4 linked regions of the Homo sapiens genome follow. The protein of the gene in region 2 purifies or fractionates together with the protein of the main gene of each other region. This does not show direct contact. Each region holds a gene or a part of one and is shown on either strand. Other genes may lie near its edges.

Region 1 (3,500 bases), on a different chromosome or scaffold from region 2:
GCCTCCCGAGTAGCTGGGACTACAGGCACCTGCCACCACACCCAGCTAATTTTTGTATTTTTAGTAGAGATGGGGTTTCACCATGTTGGCCAGGCTGCTCAAGAACTCCTGGCTTCAAGTGATCTACCTGCCTCGTCCTCCCAAAGTGCTGGGATTACAGGCGTGGGCCACCAAGCCCGGCTCCAAAACTTTTATCTTATTCATTGTCCTAAACAATGGCTCCTGAACACCATGTGTGGGTTTCCCTATGGATCAGTTATCTTATACCCCAGCTAAAGAATACAGTTGTATTTATTAATAGTTAAGTTACAAGCTGAAAGGGACTGCGCACAGGAAGGGAAGCACGTGTGGCCAGTGTTAAGACTGGTAGGAAAATGGCTGCGTGCAGTAGCTCATGCCTGTAATCCCAGCACTTTTGGGAGGCTGAAGTGGGAGGATCTCTTGAGCCCAGAGTTTGAGACCAGCCTGGGCAATAGAGTGAGACCCCATCTCAAAAAGAGAAAAAGACTGATAGGAAAAATAAACTCTACTGACATAAAGATTATTATTATTACCAACTCTATAAAAAGGTCAAAATTTCTTTAGAGTGCATATTCTGTATATGAAATGATTCTAATTTGTTGAATTATGTAACAATGCATGAATACAGCAAAGAACACACGAACTGGTGAGTCAAAGACTTCAGATCACCCACAGGAGGCAGGACTGTGTCCCACTCACACCATTATTCTCAATAGGGGGCTGCACAATCAGCAGGACGCAGCCGATGATAAAATCACTGGCGAATGCCAATTTGGGCCAGGGAGAGCATGTGTTCACCCCTAACTCATACAGGCACTGCAATCTGGTAAGGGAGCCTGCCAACCTCAAGTAATATAGTTAGCAAGGTCAAGCAAAAATCATTTTAAAGGCCGGATGTGGTGGCTCACGCCTGTAATCCCAACACTTTGGGAGGCCGATGCGGGTGGATCACCTGAGGTCAGGAGTTTGAGATCAGCCTGGCCAACGTGGTGAAACCCCGTCTCTACTAAAAGTACAACAGTTCACTGGGTGTGGTGGCTGGTGCCTGTAATCCCGGTTACTTGGGAGGCTGAGGCAGGAGAATCGTTTGAACCCAGGTGGCGGAGGTTGCAGTGAGCTGAGATTGCACCACCGCACTCCAGCCTGGGCAAAAGGGTGAAACTCCGTCTCAAAAAAAAAAATCATTTAAAAAGTCACATACTAATAGAAGCCTTCCAAATACAGTAAGAGTTTAAAGGCTAGGACAAAGACAGTACCTTTCTAGTACTTTTAAGAAGCCTGTTCAGGGGTGGGGAGTGTGTCTTCTCTAAACACAAACACAGTTCATTCTCTATGGCCGCTTTATAGTCCATGTTTGCACTCATCACTCTGCATGACTGTTTGTTCATACTCCCATCTCATACTGGACGTGAGGTGAATTCTGTAAGGCAAACATCCTACTTTGTTCTTTTTTCTATTCCTAGCATCCATGACCTAGTTGGTGCTTAGTAAATTTTTGCTGAACTGAAGCAAAGCAAAACAAAACCTGTGGCTACTTTACATTTAAGTCCCAGGTAGCTTCTTTCTGCTCTGGGTTATTTCCACTTACTACTCCACACACATTTACAAAGCGCCCACTCCATGTGAGGCACTGGGGAGTGGGCAGAGATAATAAGCTGTGCTACCTGGCTTGGAGGCACCGATTGTTTAATATGGGAGACAGATGCACAGACCAACCCCTGCAGCACAGGATAAGGATGAAGACCCAGGTCTCTCCAGGTGTGGTGGGAGAGAAGGGAGTGACTGCTCCACATGCCTGGGCTGGAGGTGGGGGAGGGAGATAAGTGCAGTCTGAAGAATGAAAATGTCAGGCAAGCCCGGCGTGGTGGTTCACGCCTGTAATCCCAGCACTTTGGCAGACTGAGGTGGGCAGATCACCTGAGGTCAGCAGTTTGAGACCAGCCTGACCAACATGACGAAACCCCAACTCTACTAAAAATACAAAAATTAGGCCGGGTGCAGTGGCTCACACCTGTAATCCCAGCACTTTGGGAGGCCGAGACGGGTGGATCACCTGAGGTTGGGAGTTTGAGACCAGCCTGACCAACATGGAGAAACCCCGTCTCTACTAAAAATACAAAAATTAGCCAGGCATGGTAGTGGGCGCCTGCAATCCCCACTACTTGGGAGGCTGAGGCAGGAGAATCGCTTGAACCCGGGAGGTGGAGGTTGCCGTGAGCCGAGATAGCGCCATTGCACTCCAGCCTTGAGCAACAGAGCGAGACTCCGTCTCAAAAAAAAAAAAAAGAAAATGCCACGTAAGGCAGTGGGGGCGGGGGGCCTGCAGGCTGTTTGGTATGGCCAGAGCCTGAAGTTCAAGAAATGGGGGGGATGAGCCTGCAGAGGCAGACAGGGCATGATCATGAGGACTCTGGGTGTGCGAGGAGTGACATGATTAGAGCTGCTAAGAAAGGGCACCTGAAAGGCAGCGGCATGGGGTGACAAGTAAGAACTGCAGTGGCAAGCCAGGTGAGATGAACTCGCTTACACATTATGGACATGGTACTTGGGATAGCGGAGCCTGGATTTAGATTTAGGCAGCAAATTTCATGGGAGAGGTGGAGAGAGGAGTTGAGAAAGGTTAAGTGAATAACTGGTAGAGTCATGAGCAGGGAGACTAAGAATAAAGGAAGAACACTTTGGGGAGAGGAGAGTAAGTCTGATTTTGAACAAATCAATCTCAAGATGCAGGCAATGGGAAATACGGGTCTGAGAATACAGAGAGAAATTGAGCCTAAAGAGACAGATTTGAAAGTAAACAGGATATGGTGACATGGACTGGGACAAATGGCACCAAAGTGGTAATGGTATACAGTGAGAATTAGAGACTTTTTTTTTTTTTTTTGAGATGGAGTCTTGCTCTGTCACCCAGGCTGGAGTGCAATGGCACAATCTCGGCTCACTGCAACCTCTGCCTCCTGGGTTCAAGCGATTCTTCTGCCTCAGCCTCCCGAATAGCTGGGGCTACAGGCGCATGCCACCATGCCTGGCTCATTTTTGTATTTTTAGTAGAGATGTGGTTTCACCATAATGGCCAGGCTGGTCTCGAACTCCTGACCTTGTGATCTGCCCATCTCGGCCTCCCAAAGTGCTGGGATTACCGCACCTGGCCATTAGAGACAATTTTATCTAGTAATAATATAAAACCCAGTATGCATCACAGTTTGTAGATCAGTGCTTCTTAAGGATTATTTTGCCCACCAGGGGACATCTGGCAATGTCTGGAGACATTTTTGTTTGTCACAGCTCGGGAGAAGGAGGGGTAGGCTGCTACTAGCGCCTAGTGGGTAAAAGCCAGGGATGCTGCTAACCACCCTACAATGCGCAGGGCAGCTTCCACACATTCTTCAGCAAGAATTATCCAGGGCTGGGTGCAGTGGCTGATGCCTATAATCCCAGCTGCTCGGGAAGCCGAGGCAGGAGGATTGCTTGAGCCTAGG
Region 2 (3,500 bases):
GAGGCGGGTGGATCACGAGGTCAGGAGTTTGAGACCAGCCTGGCCAACACGGTGAAACCCTGTCTCTACTAAAAATACAAAAATTAGCTAGGTGTGGTGGCACACACCTATAATCCCAGCTACTTGGGAGGCTGAGGCAGGAGAATTGCTTGAACCTAGGAGGCGGAGGTTGCAGTGAGCCAAGATCACGCCACTGCACTCCAGCCTGGGCAACAGAGCAAGACTATGTCTTGGGGGTGGGGGGAGGGTATGTAATACAGTGGTTTTTAGTAAGAATTCTTACACTTTTATAACTTTGACTTTTTAATATGGCTTCTTTAGTCTTTCAAATCTTTCAAAGATTAGAAAGAATCTTTGTTCAGTAGAAATTATATATTTTGAGGGCTGCAGACATGCTAGTGTCAGCTGGTCCTGAACCCATCTTTCACTTGTTATAATTTTATGTAGGCCAAATATCTTGTACATTAGAAAAAGTTTAGGTTGTTTAAAAGGCAAATGACATGCTAGTTTGAAACATTAATAAAAAATGCAAAAGAAAAAAATTTAAAAATGCAAACATTTACCTAAATTCATATACTATTATTGTAAAAGCTATCATGAAATGCATTTTGTCTATGCCTTTTGTCTCATCTGTAAAATAAGGGGCTTGGACTGGTTGATATCTAAGGTTTCTTTAGGCCTCCTGAGTGCTGGGACTACAGGACTGTGCCACTTCATCTGGCTAACTTTTATAACATTTTTTGTAGAGATGGGGTCTCACTATGTTGCCCAGGCTAGTGTCGAATTCCTGTCCTCAAGCAATCCTCTCACTGTGGCTTCCCAAAGTGCTGGGATTATAGGTGTGAGTCACCGTGCCTGGCCCAGATATGTTTTTAAATTACTTACTGTTTGCAGTGTACACCAAAATCTTCTATTTTATTAAGTGGAATAGTCTGGTACTCAGAAGGTCCTTCATCAGGAGGTTTGTAGCCCTAAACAAAAATGAGGTAAACAGAAGATTAAGAAAAAAAAAAAAAAAAATATATATATATATATATATATATATATATATATATATATATATATATATATATATATAAAAATGAGAAAAACATGTTTTCTATGGAGCTTTCTAATAATAGGATTATTAACTTTCGGAGGCAAATATTTAACATGAGCATTCTAATAAAAAAAAAATACTGTTTCTACTTTCCCCCCACCCAGTTTGGTGGCTGTAGGCTGGATTTTGCTTACAGATTTATTTTTCTTCTCCTTAGGTGATGTACTTTTGTTCTAATAACTATTTCAGATTGCGGCCTCCTGCCAGGGAAGGAAATAGACCTATAGATTTAGCTTGTTTTTTCTCTAGTACCTGGCAGAATGCCACAGGCACACAGATACTTATTAATAAATAAAGACTGCTTTTCCAGTAAAATTAACAATATATAACATAAATGTATTACCCTTTGCTAGGGACAGCTTGTGGTAGTTTACTATTTTGTAAATATTATTGAATTGTTTTAATAACAAGAGATATTGCTAATGTCTTTAATAATAAGTCAAATATTTGGAATTTAAAAAATGTAAGGACTTATAATTTTAAAAATTACTAAGCATTCCTACCGTCCCAGCTACTTGGGAGGCTGAGTTGGCTTGAGCCTAGGCGATGAAGGCTGTAGTACACTATGATCATGCCTGTGAATAGCCACTGTACTCCAGCCTAGGTAACACAGTGAGACTCTAACTCTTAAAAAAAAAAAAAGTTACCTTTGGGTATGTCCTAAAGGCGCCAAGATTCACTTTCCCTGCGGATATTGTTCTTGTTGGATCAATCTATAAGAAAGATATATTTAATATCTGCTGATATAAAACTGTATGCCTTTTATTTAAACATTATAAACCTAGAAATGTATACATACATATAACACTATATACATACATAATAACCAAATAAGAATAAACCAAAAAACCATAAAAGTTCAGTAAGAGGGTAATATAAGTGTCTCACAGCTAACTTAGAGATTCAAATTATTATAACATTTAAGAATATTATTTGAAGGTTTGCTCATCTATTTTTAAAAAGTTTTCTTTTGTCCTTTTAAGAGGTGAATAACTCCTACCTTCCTCATAAAACCTGGATTGCACTTAAAACACCCTGAACATAATAAGAGCTGCTCTAGCAATTCCTGCTTAACTCAGTTCAGTCAACACTGATTGAATGCCTATGATGAGCTGGCACTGAGACATAGATGCTATGACTACCCACAATTTACAGAGGGGAGAAGCAAGATACACAGTGGTTAAATAATTTGCTCAAAGTCCCAGCTTCTAAGAGATGGAATTCACATTGAAACCTAGGCAGACTGATACCAGAGCAATTTCTCTTTACTACACTATTCTTATTTCTCAGTATACTTGCTTCAGCAAATCTTCATAAAGAACTTAATTAAACTGGTTTTAAAATTCTTACCACCACTGCTACAAATGGTTCCTGGAACTGCTGATTGAGCATCTGAGTACTAACATCAATCCCAGAAAGCCAGCAGCCATAGCCAGGGTGGCTATGATACCACCCGATTGCATTTTCAAGGCGGCCAACCTAACAAATGAAGGGGCAAAAAAGTTTAAGATTACTCTTTAATTAATTTACAAGGTACCAGTACAATAAGGGTAACCAGTCTCCTTCCCATCTCCTTCTCCTCAATTACCCACTTTTCTCAGCCCAGATGCGAAATCTATGGGCAATTGCTTACCCTTACAGAGATATTCTTTGTATACAGAATACATATTCTTTGCACATACATAGATTGATAAAAACACACACAATAGCATACCACATAACATAATAATGTTTTACACTTTGTTTTTTCACTCAATAAACTGCTTTGGAGTTTGCTTCATATAAATCATCAATATATATGATGGTTATCTTTTTATTTTTTTTTCTTTTAAAGGCTGCCTGGCAGTCCACTGATGGATATACCATAATTTATTTAGCCAGTTTTATACTCAGGAACTGAGTTAGGTTGTTTCCAAATTTTTTATTTTAAACACGTATCTGATAATAAGTGTGAGAGTTTATTTAAAAAAAAAATAAAATCCATGCCATAGACCGGGTGCAGTGGCTCATGCCTGTAATCCCAGCACTTTGGGAGGCTGAGGTGGTGGATCACCTGAGGACAGGAGTTTGGGACCAGCCAGGCCAACACAGAGAAAACCCGTCTCTACTAAAAATAGAAAAATTATCCAGGCCTACTGGTGCACGCCTGTAGTCCCAGCTACTCAGGAGGCTGAGGAGGGAGAATTGCTTCAGCCCAGGAGATGGAGGTTGCAGTGAGCTGAGATCACGCCACTGCACTCCAGCCTGGGCAACAGAGTGAGTCCCTGTCTCGAAAAAAAAAAAACAACAACAACAAAAAACAAAAAAAACCATGCTATAAGTCTTATCAGGCTTTTAATCTCGTACATTTTACATATAAATCATTAAAATTTAAATATAAAATTTCATGTAAAGGGGATAA
Region 3 (3,500 bases), on a different chromosome or scaffold from region 2:
CCTCAGCCTCCCAAAGTGCTGGGATTACAGGTGTGAGCCACCGCGCCTAGCCATACTTTGGATTCTTTTTTTTTTTTTTTTTTTTGAGAGGGAGTCTTGCTCTGTTGCCCAAGCTGGAGTGCAGTGGCATGACCTCAGCTCACTGCAAGCTCTGCCACCTGGGTTCACACCATTCTCCTGCCTCAGCCTCCTGAGTAGCTGGGACTACAGGCGCCTGCCACCATGCCCGGCTAATTTTTTTGTATTTTTAGTAGAGACGGGGTTTCACCGTGTTAGCCAGGATGGTCTCGATCTCCTGACCTCATGATCCACCCACCTCGGCCTCCCAAAGTGCTGGGATTACAGGCCTGAGCCACTGCGCCTGGCCACTTTGGATTCTTCTAAGTATTTTACAGGTCTAGATCTTACATTTTGGACTTTGATCTATTTTTTTTTTTTTTGAGACAGAGTCTCGCTCTGTCGCCCAGGCTGGAGTGCAGTGGCATGATCTCAGTCCACTCCAACCTCCATCTCCCGGGTTCACGCCATTCTCCTGCCTCAGCCTCCCAAGTAGCTGCGACTACGGGCGTCCGCCACCATGCCCGGCTAATTTTCTTATTTTTTATTTATTTTTTCTATTTTTAATAGAGACGAGGTTTCACCATGTTAGCCAGCATGGTCTCAATCTCCTGATCTCGTGATCCGCCCATCTCAGCCTCCCAAAGTACTGGGATTACAGGCGTGAGCCACCGTGCCCAGCCTGGACTTTGATCTATTTGAGTTAATTTTTATATACAGTAAGGTAAGGGTCTAACTTCATTCTTCTGCATGTGTATTTCTAGTTGTGCCTGTGCTATTTGTTAAACTCTCTTTTCTGTTGAATGGCCTTGGCACCCTTGCAAAAAATTATTTAACCCTATGTGCAAAGGTATTTATTTCTGAGCTCTCTGTTCCATTCCATTGGTCCCCACGTTCTGTCCTTACGCCAGTACCACACTGTTTTGATGATTGTAGCTTTGCAGTGAGTTTTGAAATCAGAAAGTATGAGCCCTCCAACTTTGTTCTTTTTCAAGATCGTTGTGGCTATTCAGGGTCCCTTGGGATTCCATATGAATTCTAGGATAGTTTTTCTATTTTTGCAAAAAACAGTAATTCTGATAGGATTATACTGACTGCAGATCGCAGTGGGTTGTGTGGACATCTTAACAATATTCTCTTCAATCCATGGACATGGGATGTGTTTCCATTTATTGTGTCTTTTTAAATTTCTTTCACTGATGTTTCCTTTTTTTTGTTGTTGTTGTTATTTTTTGTTTGTGTACTCCAGCTTGGGCAACAGGAGCAAAACTGTCAAAAAAAAAAAAAAAAAGAAGGAAAGAAAAGAAAAGAAAAAGAAAAGCAGGGAACTGGCTGGACACAGTGGCTCATGCCTGTAATCCCAGCACTTTGGGAGGCTGAGGCAGGCGGATCACCTGAGGCCAGGAGTCTGAGACCAGCCTGGCCAACATAGAGAAACGCTGTCTCTACTGAAAAACACACAAATGAGCTGGGTGTGGTGGTGAACACCTGTAATCCCAGGTACTCAGGAGAATCACTTGAACCAGGAAGTCGGAGGTCTCAATGAGCTGAGATCACACCACTGCACTCCATCCTGGGCAACAGAGCAAGACCACGTCTAAAAAATATAAAATAAAAAGGGTGCCTCTGGGCTGGGCGCGGTGGCTCAGGCTTGTAATCCCAGCACTTTGGGAGGCTGAGGTGGGTGGATCATGATGTCAGATCGAGACCATCCTGACTAACACAGTGAAACCCCATCTCTACTAAAAATACAAAAAAATTAGCCGGGCGTGGTGGCACGAGCCTGTAGTCCCAGCTACTTAGGAGGTTGAGGCAGGAAAATCACTTGAACCTGGAAGACTGAGGTTGCAGTGAGCCAAGATCACGGCACTGCACTCCAGCCTGGGCAACAGAGCGAGACTCCATCTCAAAAAGAAAAAAAAAAGTGCCTCTGGAACCCCTCATTGCACAGGAACGTTCTAGAAATCTCCACCAAGCCAGGGCCTCTGAGCTGGTGTCAGACAGGGTCTACGTTCTCTGAGGTCCCCCTCCCCAGGCCCAGCTCCCCAGCAGGAAGCATCCGGAAGCATTACTTGAGCAGTGCGAGGAAGGCAGCGGGTTCCACGTCGGGCAGCTCAATCTCCGTGGATGTTGTGGCCATTCCCCCGTTGAACATGGCATCAAAGACGGCGCTGCCCACGGCCAGCACGAACCTGGTACGGGAGAGAGAAGGCCCTGGTTAAGCCCGTGGCCGCCACCCCACGGCCGGGAGGGCCAGCCCGGTATCCTGGGTGACCACCCCACTAGGGCTCCCTGCCAGCCTCCAGCAGGCATGTACCAGGCCCCCCGATGGCAGAGGCTTCTGGAAGGGGCCTGGGACAGCAGGAGGGTGATGCAGACGGACCCACGGCAAGGACAGGCAGGGCTAGGACCATGCCCTGGGCCACACAGGGCCTCACGCTCTGCCAGCCCTCACCATCCTCTCTCTTTCCTTCCAGGCGTCAGGCACGCACTCATTCACTCATTCCCATATGCATGCATTTATTCACACGTGTTCATTCACACATGCATTCACACATACGTTCATTCATGCATGCATTCACTCGCTCATTCACATGCATTCATTCACACAGGCGTTCATTCACTCATTCATTCACATATTCATTCATTAACTAATTTCCATGTACATTCACTCAACTCATACACATGCACTCATTCATTCATCCACACATGCATTCATTGATCCACTGATTCATTCCCGTGGGCATGCATTCACTTGCTCATTTATGACACATGCATTCATTCACTTTCTCATTCATCGCACACTCATTCACTCACCCATTCACACACACACACATTCGTTCATTCCCACATGCACTCATCCACTTAGTCTCATTATTCACTCATTCATTCACACTCGTCTACTCTCTATCACTCTCCTGCTCACGCATTCCCTCATCAGCACAAGCTTTCCCAGGGAGTCAGCTACAGGCACAGGGCCTGGCCTCACTGAGGGAGACAGACGAGGACCAAATGGCCGAACAGCCCCCACTGAGTGAGAGAAGAGAGAGGAGCGTGGTCCCATCAGGAACGCAAGGCCCAGGGAAGCCCTGTGGGGTCATCTGAGCCGCCACGTCCATGGGGAAGGGCATGGAGGCCCAGGAACAGCAGGAGCGTGGGAGGAGCGTTAGGAGGCAGCAGGGGTGGCCCCAGCTGGGAAAGCGGTGGCTGTGAGGACGCTGGGGGTTCTGCCCCGTGTGAAGCTCAGGCTGCCTATGGGGCCCACTCAGTGGCTCAGATCTTCGATATCGCCACAGGCAGGAGGGTGCGGTGAGCAGAGAAAGGCTGCTGGTGCCTCCCCAAGAGCCGGCTATGAACCCGCGTTTGGCCAGGTCTGTATGGGGTGGGGAGAACTCCACGGCTCCCAGGCTCAAGACGCCACTCTGTGCTGTCCATGTACAGTC
Region 4 (3,500 bases), on a different chromosome or scaffold from region 2:
ATCTGGTAAGAACAGCATCAGAAAACAAACTTCAATCTAGAGGAGAACCAAGAGCAGGGAGATTGGCAGCCAACTATTCCCAAGGCCAACCTTGTCACAGAGGAACCTTTGGGTCATACCACCCCTAGGGCTATAAATGTATCTCTTAAAAGGTTTCTGGGAGTGCAACTCTCAACACCACAATCAGAAAATAACACTCGAGATCAGCACCCCAAGGAGTTGACATCTGTAGTTTAGAAACAAAAACAAATGGAGCTCCAGAAATGAAATTACAAATCAATCACATGAATGACAGCCGGCCATCAGTTGGCCGACCCCTGCTGGGTCTAAAGGGAAATCTGTCATTGGGGCCGCCTCGCCCTGGCAAGATGGGGTTAGGTCCTGGAAGTGGGCCAACTGGATCAAAGCGTGGTCTCAGTGGAGGAAACTGGCTGGGCGTCTCCCCAGGACCAGGAATGAGTGAACTGATTGGGTCTCCAACATAGGGAAGTGTTGGTCTTTGGTCATATTCACCCCCGATAATTCCTGGAGGAAGGCGGGAGCTAGGAAATGGCCTAGGGTGCAAGGGGTTGGGATAGAATGGAATGGTGTGAGTTGACGATGGCAGGAGCATCACAAACCGCCCTTTCGGGGATTCTTTTCTTTGTATGTGCCTCTTCCTGTACAGCTGTAGAAAAAAGAAAAATAAAAGAACAAGATAAGGTAAGTGATCTGGATGTTTCCCTTTAGTTCTAATTTGCTTTCATAGTAAAGATCTATAGGCACACCTCAGACATATTGTGGATTTAGTCCCAAACCAATGCAATAAACCAAGTCACACAAATTTTTTTGGTTTCCCAGTGTATATAAATGCTATGCTATGTTTACACTATAGTAAGTGTGCAATAGCATTGTATCTAAAAAGACAATGTACATACCTTAATTTAAAAATATGCTAACAATCACCTGAGCCTTTAGCAAGTTGCAATCTTTTTGCTAATAGAGGGTCTTGCCTCCATGTTCGTTGCTGCTGACAGATCAGGGTGCTGGTTGCTAAAGGCTGAAGTGGCTGTGGCAATTTCTTAAAATAATACAACAGTGAAGTTTGTCACATTGACTCACTCTTCCTTTCATGAAAGATTTCTCTGTACATGCGATGCTGTTTGATGGCATTTTACCCACAGTAAAACTTTCAAAATCAGAGTCAACCTTCTCAAACCTTGCTTCTGTTTTGTCAACTAAATTTATGTAATATTCGAAATCCTTTGTTGTCCAGGAATAGATTCCATTCCAAGAAACCACTGATAAAGAAAATGTGGCATATATACACCATGGAATACTACTCAGCCATAAAAAGGAATGAAATAATGTCTTTTGCAGCAACTTGGATGCAGCTGGAGGCCATTATTTTAAGTGAAGTAACTCTAGAATGGAAAACCAAATCTTGTGAGACCTAACCTATGAGGATGCAAAGGCATAAGAATGACATAATGGACTTTGGGGACTTAGGGGGAAAGGCTGGGAGGGAGGTGACGGCTAAAAGACTACATATTGGGTACAGTTGTACACTGCTTGGGTGACGGGTGCACTAAAATCTCAGAAATCACCACTAAAGAACTCATCTATGCAACCAAAAACCACCTGTACCCCAAAAACTATTGACATTTTTTTAAAAAAAGAAACCACTTTCTCTCTTTATCCGTAAGAAGCAAGTTCTCATCCATTCAAGTTTGACTGTGAGACTGCAGCAATTCAGTCCCATCTTCAGGCTCCACTTCTAATTCTAGCTCTCTTGCTAGGTCCATCACATCTGCACTTCCTCCACTGAAGTCTTGAACCCCTCAAAGTCATCCACGAGGATTGGAATCAACTTCCAAACTCCTGTTGATATTTTTATCTCCCCCATGAATCCTCAGTATGCTTAATGGCATCTAGAAGGCTAAATCCTTTCCAAAAGGTTTTCAATTTCCTTTGTCCAGATCCATCAGAGGAATCACCATCTCTGGCAACTATGGCCTGACAAAATGTATTTCTTAAATAATAAGATTCAAAGTCAAAATTATTCCTTGATCCATGAGCTTCAGAATGCAGTTGTTTGCTGACATGAAAACGTTAATCTCCTTGAACATCTCCATCAGAGCTCTGGGATGACTGGCTGCATTGTCAATGAGCAGTAGTATTTTAAAAGGAGTATTTTTTATAAGCAGTAGGCCTCAATAGTGGACTTGAAATATTCAGTAAACCATGCCATAAATGATGTACTGTCATCCAGGCTTTGTTGTTCCATTTACAGAGCAAAGGCACAGATTTAGCATAATTCCTTTTTTTGTTGTTTTTTTGTTTGTTTTTTGAGACAGAGTCTCACACTGTCTCCTGGGCTGGAGTGCAATGGAGCGATCTTGGCTCACTGCAACCTCCACCTCCTGGGTTCAAGCGATTCTCCTGCCTCAGCCTCCTGAGTAGCTGGGATTACAGGTCCACACCACCACATCCGGCTAATTTTTTGTATTTTTAGTAGAGACAGGGTTTCACCGTGTTAGCCAAGATGGTCTCCAACTCCTGACCTCAGGTGATCCGCCCACTTCGGCCTCCCAAAGTGCTGGGATTACAGGCGTGAGCCACCACACCCGGCCTGATTTAGCATAATTGTTAAGGGCCCTAGGATTTTCAGAATGGTCAACAAGCACTGGCTTCAAAAATCACCAACTGCATTAGCCCCTAACAAAAGAGTCAGCCTGTCCTTTGAAGCTGGGCACTGACTACTTCTCTCTAGCTATGAAATAGATGGCGTCTTCTTCCAATAGAAAGCTGTCTCACCTACACTGAAAATCTGTTGTGTAATGCAGCCACCTTCATCAGTGATTTTAGCTACATCTTCTGGATAACTTGCAGCAGCTTTTCCATCAGCACTTGCTGCTCCACCTTGCAGTTTTTGTTATAGAGACATTAGAATAGTACCTTATGAAACAATACAATATATTCTTTTCATAAGGTACTATCTTAACTAGCTGAACAGCTGATGACTACTCCAGCACAGACAACTCATTTAAATTTTGTTGCAAAAAAGAATGTTTTATAATAAAGATGAAAAATAACACAATGATAACATTTTTTTCCATATAATTATAATAAGGATTGAGTCTAAAGTAAAAGTTGAAAACATTTTCATTTACTGAAATTTAGCAATAAATTAAAACAGATTTCACTACATCATATAAAAGTGAAAATATACCCTTAATATATTAATTCACTAGTCATTTCTGTGTTATGGACATTAGTCTTAATATTTAAAAATACCTACTTCTTTCCAATCTGTGTCTTGAACTCTGACAGTATTGTCTACAAAGGAAAAGGGAAAAATAAGGATTTAAAAACATTTCATTCGTCCTGCATTAAACAGTGGGTTTTGTTTTTCTCCTAAGAAAAGTGAAACTTACCCGTTAAGCATAAAAAAAAAAAAAAACTAACCATTTATATAACACACACTATATCATTTGTACTTTCTTATCTAATTCAAACAC

What was found. Proteins that work in one complex are often made in the same cells at the same time.
Region 1: the proteins of COPS5 (region 2) and DCAF4 purify together in Homo sapiens (affinity purification with mass spectrometry; 5 studies listed by BioGRID and IntAct, with this or other methods). This does not show direct contact.
Region 3: the proteins of COPS5 (region 2) and BTBD2 purify together in Homo sapiens (affinity purification with mass spectrometry; 6 studies listed by BioGRID and IntAct, with this or other methods). This does not show direct contact.
Region 4: the proteins of COPS5 (region 2) and FBXO7 purify together in Homo sapiens (affinity purification with mass spectrometry; 4 studies listed by BioGRID and IntAct, with this or other methods). This does not show direct contact.

What each region holds. Positions count from the first base shown.
Region 1 is NC_000014.9:72,932,964-72,936,463, reverse strand, and holds part of DCAF4 (DDB1- and CUL4-associated factor 4), read right to left. Parts: intron 1,442-3,500; exon of another isoform or gene 1,278-1,441; intron 1-1,277. UniProt on the Homo sapiens protein: May function as a substrate receptor for CUL4-DDB1 E3 ubiquitin-protein ligase complex.
Region 2 is NC_000008.11:67,055,634-67,059,133, forward strand, and holds part of COPS5 (COP9 signalosome complex subunit 5), read right to left. Parts: intron 2,579-3,500; coding exon 2,450-2,578; intron 1,813-2,449; coding exon 1,747-1,812; intron 972-1,746; coding exon 886-971; intron 1-885. UniProt on the Homo sapiens protein: Probable protease subunit of the COP9 signalosome complex (CSN), a complex involved in various cellular and developmental processes.
Region 3 is NC_000019.10:1,995,215-1,998,714, forward strand, and holds part of BTBD2 (BTB/POZ domain-containing protein 2), read right to left. Parts: intron 2,250-3,500; coding exon 2,130-2,249; intron 1-2,129.
Region 4 is NC_000022.11:32,495,311-32,498,810, reverse strand, and holds part of FBXO7 (F-box only protein 7), read right to left. Parts: intron 3,319-3,500; coding exon 3,281-3,318; intron 668-3,280; coding exon 281-667; 3' UTR 1-280. UniProt on the Homo sapiens protein: Substrate recognition component of a SCF (SKP1-CUL1-F-box protein) E3 ubiquitin-protein ligase complex which mediates the ubiquitination and subsequent proteasomal degradation of target proteins and plays a role in several biological processes such as cell cycle, cell proliferation, or maintenance of chromosome stability.